Linked DNA regions of Homo sapiens. The protein of the gene in region 3 purifies or fractionates together with the protein of the main gene of each other region. This does not show direct contact. Each region holds a gene or a part of one and is shown on either strand. Other genes may lie near its edges. The genes, in order: THUMPD3, SDF4 and USP12.

Region 1 (3,651 bases), on a different chromosome or scaffold from region 3:
TGTGGCATCATGTTGGCACTTCAAAAAAATTTTAGGTTTTGGATTTTGGACTTTGAGATTAGGAATGTTCAACCTATATGTTGGAGATCCTGGCAGTATCATTGCTGGAATTGGCTGCGTATACTCCATTGTTTGGCTGTATAATAATTTAACCAGTCCCATTTTAGGGCATGAGGGTTTTTCACATTCTTTTGCTATTACAGTGGTGCAACAAATACACTATGTAAATTCTTGTACATATTCAAACTGAGTGTCATCTTTGTGTTTATCCCATTGATACTTATTGATAATGACAACTGTTTAGTCTTAGTTTTGTCATGCTCATACTTTTTGTTTTTTCTTAATTTGAAAAATCTTTACATTATGTCTTTACTTTTTTCATATGCCTGTGTTTTCTAATAGTTTGGAAGGTTTATGTGTGTGTGTTCTAGCTGTTACCTTTATAACTACAATTTGATATTATCTACCTTATCTACCATATATACACGGTATTTTTTGAATCCCTGCTAAAAGCAATGATGAAATTGGCATATTTATACTTTTTTCCTTTATTTTTCAGTTATTTTTCTTAGTGTTCACCCTTAAACTTTTAAATATACTTACATTTTATTTATCAGCTTTAACTTCTATCCTTTGACCTCTGGGTGTAAGAGATGAGGGTATCAGTATGCCCATTTACATGCCAGTTTGTAACATTTACCTTCTGCTTTATAATCACAATCCCTACACTTGTTTTCATTTTAGTGATATAATTAAATAGATTATAGGCACATTATTTGTCCTTTTGTTATAATTTGTATCTGTTGAATGGCATGAGTTCAGAAATGTTTGTCTTTCACCTTTATATTTGGCTGATAGTTTGGGTATAAAATTTGGAGTTAGGCTTTCTTTCCTTAAGAATATTGTAGTCAGTGTTCATTCTCTTTTGTAAAAGATTTATTTTTTTAGACAAGATCTTGCTCTGTTGTCTAAGCTGGAGTGCATTGGCGTGATCATAGCTCATTGGAGCCTTGACCTCCCAGGCTCAAGCAGTCCTCCCATCTCAGCTTCCTGAGTAGCTGGGACTACAGGCACGTGCCACCATGCCCAGTTAATTTTTGTATTTTTTTGTGGAGACAGAGTTTTGCCATGTTGCCCAGTCTGGTCTCAAACTCCTAAGTTCAAGTGATCCACTTGCTTCAGCTTCCTAAAGTGCTGGGATTACAGGCATGAGCCACCATATCCAGCCCAGACTTTTTTTCTTGTCATTATTTCCCAAACAATACAGTATAACAACTATTTCCATAGCATTTACATTGTATCAGGTATCATAGGTAAGATAGAGATGATTTAAGTTACTCTTGAGAGGATGTGTGTAGGTCATATGTAGACACTATACCATTTTATATGAGGGACTTTTGAGCATCTTTGGGTTTTGGTGTCTTTGGCGGTCCTGGAACCAGTGTCCCCCACGGATACCAACTGTCCATAAGCAAAGTAGAGGTTTATTTGTTTGATTATAGTGGTGAGAAATGAATGAATTTCTTTCTCTGTCCTTTACAGGAAGAAGTTCTAAAGGATTTTGAAGACTTGGCTGGAAAACTCCCATGGTCAAACCCCTTAAAAGTGTGGAAAATTAATGCCAGTTTTAAAAAGAAAAAAGCAAAGCGCAAAAAGATAAATCAGAATTCAAGTAAAGAGAAGATTAATAATGGACAAGAAGTCAAAATCGATCAGAGAAATGTTAAAAAAGAGTTCACTAGCCATGCTTTAGATTCTCATATCTTAGATTATTATGAAAATCCAGCCATCAAAGAGGATGTATCAACATTAATAGGTGATGATTTGGCATCTTGCAAAGATGAGACTGATGAAAGCTCAAAAGAAGAAACTGAGCCTCAAGTGCTGAAGTTTAGAGTCACATGCAACAGGGCAGGAGAGAAACATTGCTTTACCTCAAATGAGGCTGCAAGAGATTTTGGGGGTGCTGTTCAAGATTATTTTAAGTGGAAGGCCGACATGACCAACTTTGATGTGGAGGTAGGTATAGGCTCTGACTGTGGTGATTGAAGAATGCTGTCACAGATTTGTAGAATTTCCAGACTAACCCAATGTTATGCACAATTAAACTGAGGAAATAGTAGGGTGTGGTTAAGAAGAGCATAGGCTATGGAGACAGATTTAGATCCAAATTTTAACTCCACAACTGTATAACTTTGGACTAGATAGTCTCTGAGCCTCTGTTTCAAATGGAGCCAATAATATTATGTACCTTTAAGGTTATCCTGAAGGATAAATGAGGTACATTTAAAATATTTGGTGCAATACCTTGCATACACTAAGTGCTCCATAGATGGAAGCCATCAAGGTTGAGTTGTCTGTTTTCTTTTTCTTTTTCGAGACAGAGTCTTGCTCTGTCACCCAGGCTAGAGTGCAGTGGTACGATCTCAGCTCACTGCAGCCTCCACCTTCCTGGTTCAAGTGATTCTTGTGCTCAGCCTCCCAAGTAGCTGGGGCTACAGGCACATGCCACCACACCTGGCTAATTTTTGTATTTTTTAATAGACATGGGGTTTCACCCTGTTGGCCAGGCTGGTCTCAAACTCCTGTAGTGATCTGCCTGTCTTGGCCTCCCAAAGTGCTGGGATTATAGCTGCACCTGGCCTGATTTCTAATAGACTACTCTTTTACTATATTATATGGACTTTCATATTATAAAATTCAACCAGAATTAAAATAGTTATTTTGTTTTTGTGTGTCTTGGTTGCAGAGCTTTGCTACTGAAAAAATAAAATAAGGCTGGGCGCAGTGGCTCACGCCTGTAATCCCAGCACTTTGGGAGGGAGGCCGAGGCAGGTGGATCACTTGAGGTCAGGAATTTGAGACCAGCGTGGCCAATATGGTGAAACCCTGTCTCTACTAAAAATACAAAAATTGGCCCGTCATGATGGCACACTCCTGTGGTCCCAGCTACTGGGGAGGCTGAGGCAGGAGAATCACTTGAACCAGGGAGGTGGAGGTTGCAGTGAGCCAAGATCATGCCACTGCACTTCAGCGTGGGTGACAGAGCAAGACTCCATCTCCAAAAAAAAAAAAAGTGCATTTTTTAAACAAACCCTGACCTTCTCAAACCAGGACATCATTGCTAATACTCATCCTAGAGTCAGCTCTCCTCTTTCTTAAATTCTGCTAGATTTCCAAAGCCAGGTACCTCATTTTAGTATATTTACTTTCCTTGGTCTTAATCCTCTTTTATCTGGGTGATTGACATGTGAACCATAGGAACTAAAGTATTTAAGTCTCTGACACCTTAAAACATCTCTAGCAGCTGATATATTTACCAAAGAGTCAATTTCCGTTGCTTTTGGGACACTTGAATCTGGGGCAAGTCACTGATTCTAACTTTTTTGTGCATGTCAAATCAGGAGTCTAATTCCCCATTCCTTTTTTTCCTCATACACTGCCTTGCAAATGAATACGTGGCTCACACCTGTAATTCCAGTACTTTGGGAGGCCTTGGCAGGCAGATCGCTTGAGCCCAAGAATTTGAGACCAGCCTGGGCAAAATAGTGAGACCCTGTCTCCACTAAAAATAAAATAAATATTTTAAAAAATAAAATGAATAGGTTAACCAGAACAGTGATGTCTAAAAGTTAGCAAGGTGATTCAGAG
Region 2 (3,651 bases), on a different chromosome or scaffold from region 3:
CTGCGGCTGCTGAGGGAGGGGCGCGTGTGAGCGGCAGCCTGGCCTTCTTCCATGAGGATCTCTGCCCAGTGCTTCTGAGCCGTGCCTGCGGTGTGTGCACCCTCGAAGCTTGCCTGGCCCAGGTCCCAGAGGCCACACCTGCCTGACGAGGGCCTGCTTGCCACCTCATAACGTGGCCGCGGCTGCCCCTGAGCGGAGCATAGAGGCAAGGGGCCAGGGCACCCTACTCTCGGGGATGCCTCCGGCAAACGCACCAGCCGGGGTCTCAAGACCTCGCACCTCTGGAAGCCCTGCCTCCCAGTGCTGTTGCCCTGGGGGTTAAGTTTCCAACAGGTGAGCTCAGGACACGGGCGGCTGCAGCAGGGGTAGGAGCCTGTGGCTTCCACAAAGACATAATGGTGAAGCCGAGCTCTGAAGCTGGGACGGGAGTGACCTGTCCTGGGGCCTGTGGCCTCCTGACCTGGCCTGCGCTGGCCCCGTGTCCCCAGTCTGTGTCCCTATCCCCCAAGTCTGTGGTCTCTTCCATCCTTGCACACAATGTTAAGTCCCCACACGGTCTTCTTCCTAAATCTCACAACTTAAATTTATATGAAGGATTTTGTTTTGTCTTGTTTTGAGTCAGGGTCTCGGTATGCCGCCCAGGCTGGAGTGCAGTGGTGTGATCACAGTTCACTGCAACCTTCGCATTCCAGGTTCGGGAGGCCTCCCACCTCAGCCTCTTGAGTAGCTGAAACCACAGGTGCACGCCACCGCGCCTGGCGAATTTTCGTAATTGTTTTTGTAGAGGTGGGGTCTCCCTATGTTGCCCAAGCTGGTCTTGAACTTCTGGGCTTAAGTGATCCACCTGTCTTAGCCTCCCAAAGGGCTGGGATTATAGGTGTGGCCACTGCGTCCTGCCTATATGAAGGTTTTTGTGTAGCCATACCTGAAGCATCGAAAATAAAACATGGGCCGGGCCCAGTGGCCACACCTGTAATCCTAGCACGTTGGGAGGCTGAGGTGGGTGGATCATTTGAGGTCAGGAGTTTGAGACTAGCCTGCCCAACATGGTGAAACCGTATTTCTGTTAAAAATACAAAAATTAGCCAGGCGTGGTGGTGCACCCCTGTAATCCCAGCTACTCGGGAGGCTGAGGCAGTAGAATCGCTTGAACCCGGGAGGCGGAGGTTGCAGTGAGCAAAGATTGCGCCACCACACTCCAGCCTGGGTGACAGAGTGAGACTCCATCTCAAAAAATAAAATAAAACGTGAAGAGTGTGACTTTTGGAAGCTGTGGTTGGAGAGTGGGGTCTGGTGGTGATTCTGTGTGACAGAGGGGGAGGGTCCATGTGTTTCCCCGGGGAGGGGACCGTGGCATCCACCTTCCCCAGTGTCTCTGGCGTGGCCCGGCACCCCACAAGCCCCACGTCCCGGACGCTTTTCGCGTTGCCTGGTGGAGCCTGTCGCTGTTGGTGGCAGGTTCACGCAGCCATGGAGTCCTGGGCCGGCGGCATCCGTCTGGCTGTTCGGGGTCCTGGGGGCCCAGTCTGACGGCCACCTGCCCATTTGCTGTCTTGCAGGGTGGATGTGAACACTGACCGGAAGATCAGTGCCAAGGAGATGCAGCGCTGGATCATGGAGAAGACGGCCGAGCACTTCCAGGAGGCCATGGAGGAGAGCAAGACACACTTCCGCGCCGTGGACCCTGACGGGGACGGTACTGTGGCTGGGCCGGGGTGGGTGGGGCGGTGGGCGGGGCGGGCAGGGCCATGGGCCTTGCCTGGTGCCTGGAGGGCAGACAGGCCCTGTCTGAGGGACGGGCGGTGGGGAAGTGTCAGCCGGAGACCCCGAGGTGTGGTGGGGTGCACGGAAGCTGGGTTCATGATGCCAGAATCCTGGTGACAGAGGTGTGTGTGCCAAGCACTGGGCGTGGCCCATGGAGGGCGCCTCTTATGTCTTCGGGGCCTTCATCTGGTGGTGTCTATGCCTCTTGGTGGCCCCGAGGCACAGACGTTGCCGGCTGGCCTCACAGGTGAGGAAACGGGTGTGGGGTGCTGGCCGGGGCCCTGGGGCTCCAGACGCTGGCATCCTGCCGCTTCCAGCCTGGGCAGCAGAGCAAGACCCCATCTCAGTTGAGAAGGAAGTTCAGCTCAGTATCAGAGGCCCTGACAGGTGTGATCTGCTCTTCCAGGTCACGTGTCTTGGGACGAGTATAAGGTGAAGTTTTTGGCGAGTAAAGGCCATAGCGAGAAGGAGGTTGCCGACGCCATCAGGCTCAACGAGGAACTCAAAGTGGATGAGGAAAGTGAGTGCTCAGCCAGGCTCCCGCCACCGGTCTCAGGCATCCTGTGTGTGCGCGCGTGTGTTGTGTGTACATGAGTGTGCCGTGTGTGTCGTGTATGAGTGTGCCGTGCGTGTGCTCGTGAGTACGTGTGTGCGTGCCGTGTGTACGAGTGTGCTGTGCGCGTGCTCGTGAGTACGTGTGTGCATGTTGTGTGTACGTGTGCTGTGTGTGTGCTCGTGAGTACATGTGTATGCGTGTCGTGTGTACGAGTGCACTGTGCATGTGCTTGTACGTGTGTGCGTGTCGTGTGTACGAGTGCGCTGTGCGTGTGCTTGTGAGTACATCCAGGTAGCTGTTCATGTAGGCTCGTGAGTACATGCAGGTGAGTGCGCCCTCACACCCGCTGTGTGCACACGTGTTCGTCTTAACAGCATGGCCCAACCTGGTTGGTGGTGGCTGTCAGGAGGGAAGTGGGTGAAGCCGTTGCTGACCTAGGCGCCGCCCAGGAGTCCGGTGGGGAGCGTGTGAGCTGTGCCTGGGCAGCTTTCAGCTCTGCTGGTCACGGCACCTTCACGGCCGTTACTCAGTTAGGTCCTGCAGAGAATCTGAGGCTGTGAGTCTGGGTTGGGGCCTGCCCCGTACTCTGAAGGCCACGTGAGGCAGAGTTTCCTGGGGAGAGGGCACAGCCTGTGCCTGAGGGCCTGGCCCTGAGGCCTGGGTCTGCTGGAGACATCTGTGTGGCCGTCAGGTGGTCACCAGAGAGCGGTCAGGTCCCAGGGAGAGGCTCTTCCTTGGGTCTGGGGTGTGGCCGTTGGCCAGCAGGGCAGCCTCAGCCCTGGGCGGGTCCAAGCTGGTGCCTCTGCGTGAAGAGGGTGGGGCCGGGTGGGGCCCGGCACCCGGGCTAAGGCCAGGTGAGGGGAGAGCCGGGCCACCCTGCACGGGGCCAGGTCTGGGAGAGCCGTCCAGGCAGAAGCCCCTGCTGGCCCAGTTGTGAGGCACAGCTGAGCGGGTACCGTGGCGTTGCTGCCACCCTGGGGCTCCGTGTGCCCTTCCCGGTCATGCCCGTGGTCTGGTTTGGGGCTTTGAGGAGAACGTGCAGAGTCGCCTGCTCCGTCGCTGCCCGGCATCCTGGGGTGGGTTCTCTGCTGCCCTGCAGGGCGCCCGTGTCGCCCACGGGACTGGTCACGTGATACGGGGCTGCTCCTGGCAGGCTGGGTGTATCTTACACCTTTATTTTTTGTGCCTGCTTAACTTATCAGTAACACACATTTCCTCACCAGAGTCTCAAGGCAAACCACCTCTTCTTTCTTTTTTCATGAGACGGTCTCACTCTGCTACCCAGCCTGCAGTGCAGTGGTGCAGTCTCGGCTCCCTGCAGCTGTACCTTC
Region 3 (3,651 bases):
TATAAGTACTGAAGTGTACATAATTTTTTCATTTGTCAAAATAACGTACCTGGGCAAATCTGCAATACCTTAATTGGGTTAAGTAACTGTTAAAAACAATTCTCTTCAGCTGTGTCTTATTTTAGATCACTAGTGTTGTGCTTACATGTGAAAATTAGTAAAACTTGTTTTTCATAAGTTAGTATTATAGCCTGAACCAAATGAGTGATTATGTTTAGATTGCAGTGAGTACATTTTCAAGGGTACCTCTTGAAATACCTGTTTTTAATTTGTCTATGAAATAATACATTTTCAGTATCACATAGTGTTTATTTTGCCTTTGAAGTAGTTTCAGACTTCAGGGCCTGGCACGGAGTACCTGCCTACCTGATATTTAATATTATACTTAATAAGTGTGAAATAACGGGAAAAGTGACAGAATACATGTAGAGAGGCTGTGTTTTGCAGTTGAGGTGGCTAATCCGGGTGGTCCGTCATGGGCATGCAGTAGTGGTCAGGACAGCCCCTGCTTTGGAGCTGGCACTACTTACTGTTAGCTCCATAAATGTTAGCTCTGCCTCTGATCATTATTGTCTCTTCCTGTTTGGGTTGTAGGAGTCATGGTTAGGAAGGCGTTGTTGGGAGGGGGACCAGACAACGGAGAAGTTGTTGGTGCAGGAGGTGGGTAGAGTTAGATCATGGGGTGGCACTGGCCTGGCTGCTTGCCCACCCTCGGTTACAAGGGCATGAGATTAGATCCATTAGAACATGGTGGTAATGAGGCCAAAGCTGGTAAAGGTAGGTGCTAGGAGAGTCCCACGGGCTTTTCTTCTGAGAAAGCCTGTGCCTAGCACAGCACCCTGAGCATGGTAAACTTTACTTGCTGAAGAAAGGCACAGGTGAAACTGGCTGTCTTTTCTTTTTTGTTTGCTCTGTTTTAATAACACGATTTTTAAAAACATAAATTAGAAAGGACATACATGGAAAATGTTTGCCTTTTCTTACTGCTCAGTCTCACTGGGATCCAGGTAAGGGTATGTGTGGTCAGTGCAATTTATCCTTACTACTGAAAAAAAGGAAAGCTGGGGCAAACCTCAGAGCCCATGCGTTGTTGGGAATGTGTGTGTGTGAAAGTCTCCTCTTCATATAACAAGAATATTATATTAAATAATGAAATTTCTTTTTCCTTCTCAAGAAATAGGGTGGATGTAGTTCTTTTATTAATAAAATATTTATTTGTAAATTAATATTTTATTAGTAAAATAGTACTTCTATGATAGGAGCATTCAAATGTGAGTTGCCATTGTTTTACTTATCTAATTTTGCTGTGTTAATTTAAGAAGGGAACAAAACTTAAGCTTCTTAAGCCTTTAAAAAAAATAAGAAAACCTCAAAAATAAGGAATCTTCTATTACATAAATGTTTGGTCAAAGGAATGTTTGAGCTTGGTGGAGAGAGAACATTTAGAAGAAGTATTAATAGAAGTTTTATTTAAGCCCACTCATCTTTTGAATTTGTCTAAAATACATTTTGGACATTAAAAATGATACATTCTCATAGAAAATCTGGAAAATATAAAAACTCCAAGAAAGCAAAAGGAAGGTCAATTTTTACCTCCCAGAGGATATGTTATTTATTTATTTATTTTATTTTTTTTTTGAGACGGAGTTTCACTCTTGTTGCCCAGGCTGGAGTGCAATGCTGCAATCTTGGCTCACCGCAACCTCCACCTCCCAGGTTCAAGTGATTCCCCTGCCTCAGCCTCCCGAGTAGCTGGGATTACAGGCATGTGCCACCACGCCCAGCTAATTTTTGTATTTTTAGTAGAGATGGGGTTTCTCCATGTTGGTCAGGCTGGCCAGAGCATATTTTATTTAACTTTTTAAAAAACTTGAGTTGTATTCCCTAGATATAGTTTTACACTGTTTACCCACGAATGATTATCATGTTATCATTATCATCATTCATGCCCATCCTAAAATTTGCCCAATTTTAGGATGAACATGAGTTTAATGTTATAAAATGATGAGGTGGTGAGATGAGCCCAATAAAGCATAGTGGTAGGGTACTAGGGCGTTGACAGGTTATATGTTTAATGATTATTAGAGGGTAAAGTGATATAGTTAGCAGAAATGGAATTTTATAAGAGGTGGTTTATTCTAATCTTAGGCACTTAGTTATCACAAAGATAAGACTTGTTATGATCTGAAATTTTTAATATGCTTGAAAACTCTAGTTTTAAATACCATATTCAATTATGTGGCATGTGTATAAATATTATGGTCTTATTTTATATCATATGGCTTTGCTTACCTTCTGGTGACTTTCTCTTTCCACCTTTTGCTAATAAGTGGCTAATAGGTCTCAAAGTAGGTTAATTATCTGCCCTACCATGATCCATGTTGGCCAGTTGCAGCGAGATGATGTCACATTTCTTGTTGCCTTATTTGATTCTAGACTTTTGACCAAGTCCCCCCAAACTGAGTCTGCCTCCTTTTTGTCATTTACCAAATTCCTTTCTTCCTGCCTTTAAACTCATATTTATTCTAGCTCTTCTGAAACTTTTATTGTCTCAGGAAGTATCTTTTAAGCATTTGTATACTTTGTATAATTCCTTTCCAGAAACCTTTTTAGATTTAAATAATCTAATTTTGTTTTGGTTTCTCTTTTAGCAGCTCTATTCCAGAAACTTAATATGGTATTTTGTTATGTATTTGACAGCATGGTATAATGAAAAGAGCAGTTGGACCAGAAGGTAAATTCTAGTCCAGATTTTGACATTTAGATGTGTATATATGGGAAAGTTTCTTAAAACTTCGAGTTAATTTTTCTCATCTGTGAAATAAAGGGATTGGACTAGATACTCTTTAATAGATATTCCTTATATGCTTGTCTCCTTCTAGGTCTAAAATTCTGATCCTTTAGTAGTTTATAAATGATTATTGGTATCATTTTCATCATTTTAGGAGCTCTTTTTTAAAAAATTATTATTATTTTTTTTGCTCTGTAGCCCATTTCTAGAACATCTTGGGAGTTCTAATTATGTTTTAGATAACATAAAAAGCATAGAATCAGACATAATTAAGCAAGAATTTCACTTAGTTCCCTAGTTTTTACAGTCTAAATACATTTTTCTTTCTTTAAAACTGGAGGTTACTGATACCACCATTTTCGTCACCAACAGCCTAATAATTCACAAAGCTATTTGCTAATTTTTGACACTTTTTTCTTTGCCAGTACCATTAAGGGATTTGAATTTTTTTGAGGTTCCATGTTTATTTCTTTAGTTATGAGTATGACCTTGGACAAGTTACTTCTCTGTACCTGTAAAGTGAGAGTAAAATAACATCTAGTTCATAGGGTTGTTGACTAGTACCTGGCCCATGGTAATCACTGTGTCATGTTGGCTGTTACTGCCCTTTAACATGATTTGCTCCCCTCCCTGTGGTAAAAAGTATTCATTGGCACTACTAATTAATCTGTTAGCTCAACATATACTAACCAAAATGGAAATTTGTTTTGTGAAATACAATTGTCAGTTCCTTTTCATTATAAGAAACGTTAGTTTATTAGTAGTATATACCCCTGAGAAAGCACTAATTTATTTTGAAATTGAGTGGATTAATTCATAATATGAAAGCTGAGAATGTAGATTGTCTTCTTTCTCTATTT

The links.
Region 1: the proteins of USP12 (region 3) and THUMPD3 purify together in Homo sapiens (co-immunoprecipitation; one large-scale study listed by IntAct). This does not show direct contact.
Region 2: the proteins of USP12 (region 3) and SDF4 purify together in Homo sapiens (affinity purification with mass spectrometry; one large-scale study listed by BioGRID and IntAct). This does not show direct contact.

The regions. Positions count from the first base shown.
Region 1 is NC_000003.12:9,369,518-9,373,168, forward strand, and holds part of THUMPD3 (tRNA (guanine(6)-N(2))-methyltransferase THUMP3), read left to right. Parts: intron 1-1,542; coding exon 1,543-2,019; intron 2,020-3,651. UniProt on the Homo sapiens protein: Catalytic subunit of the THUMPD3-TRM112 methyltransferase complex, that specifically mediates the S-adenosyl-L-methionine-dependent N(2)-methylation of guanosine nucleotide at position 6 (m2G6) in tRNAs.
Region 2 is NC_000001.11:1,221,877-1,225,527, reverse strand, and holds part of SDF4 (45 kDa calcium-binding protein isoform 2 precursor), read left to right. Parts: intron 1-1,559; coding exon 1,560-1,696; intron 1,697-2,170; coding exon 2,171-2,284; intron 2,285-3,651. UniProt on the Homo sapiens protein: May regulate calcium-dependent activities in the endoplasmic reticulum lumen or post-ER compartment. Isoform 5 may be involved in the exocytosis of zymogens by pancreatic acini.
Region 3 is NC_000013.11:27,165,250-27,168,900, reverse strand, and holds part of USP12 (ubiquitin carboxyl-terminal hydrolase 12), read left to right. Parts: intron 1-3,651. UniProt on the Homo sapiens protein: Deubiquitinating enzyme that plays various roles in the regulation of the immune response and inflammation.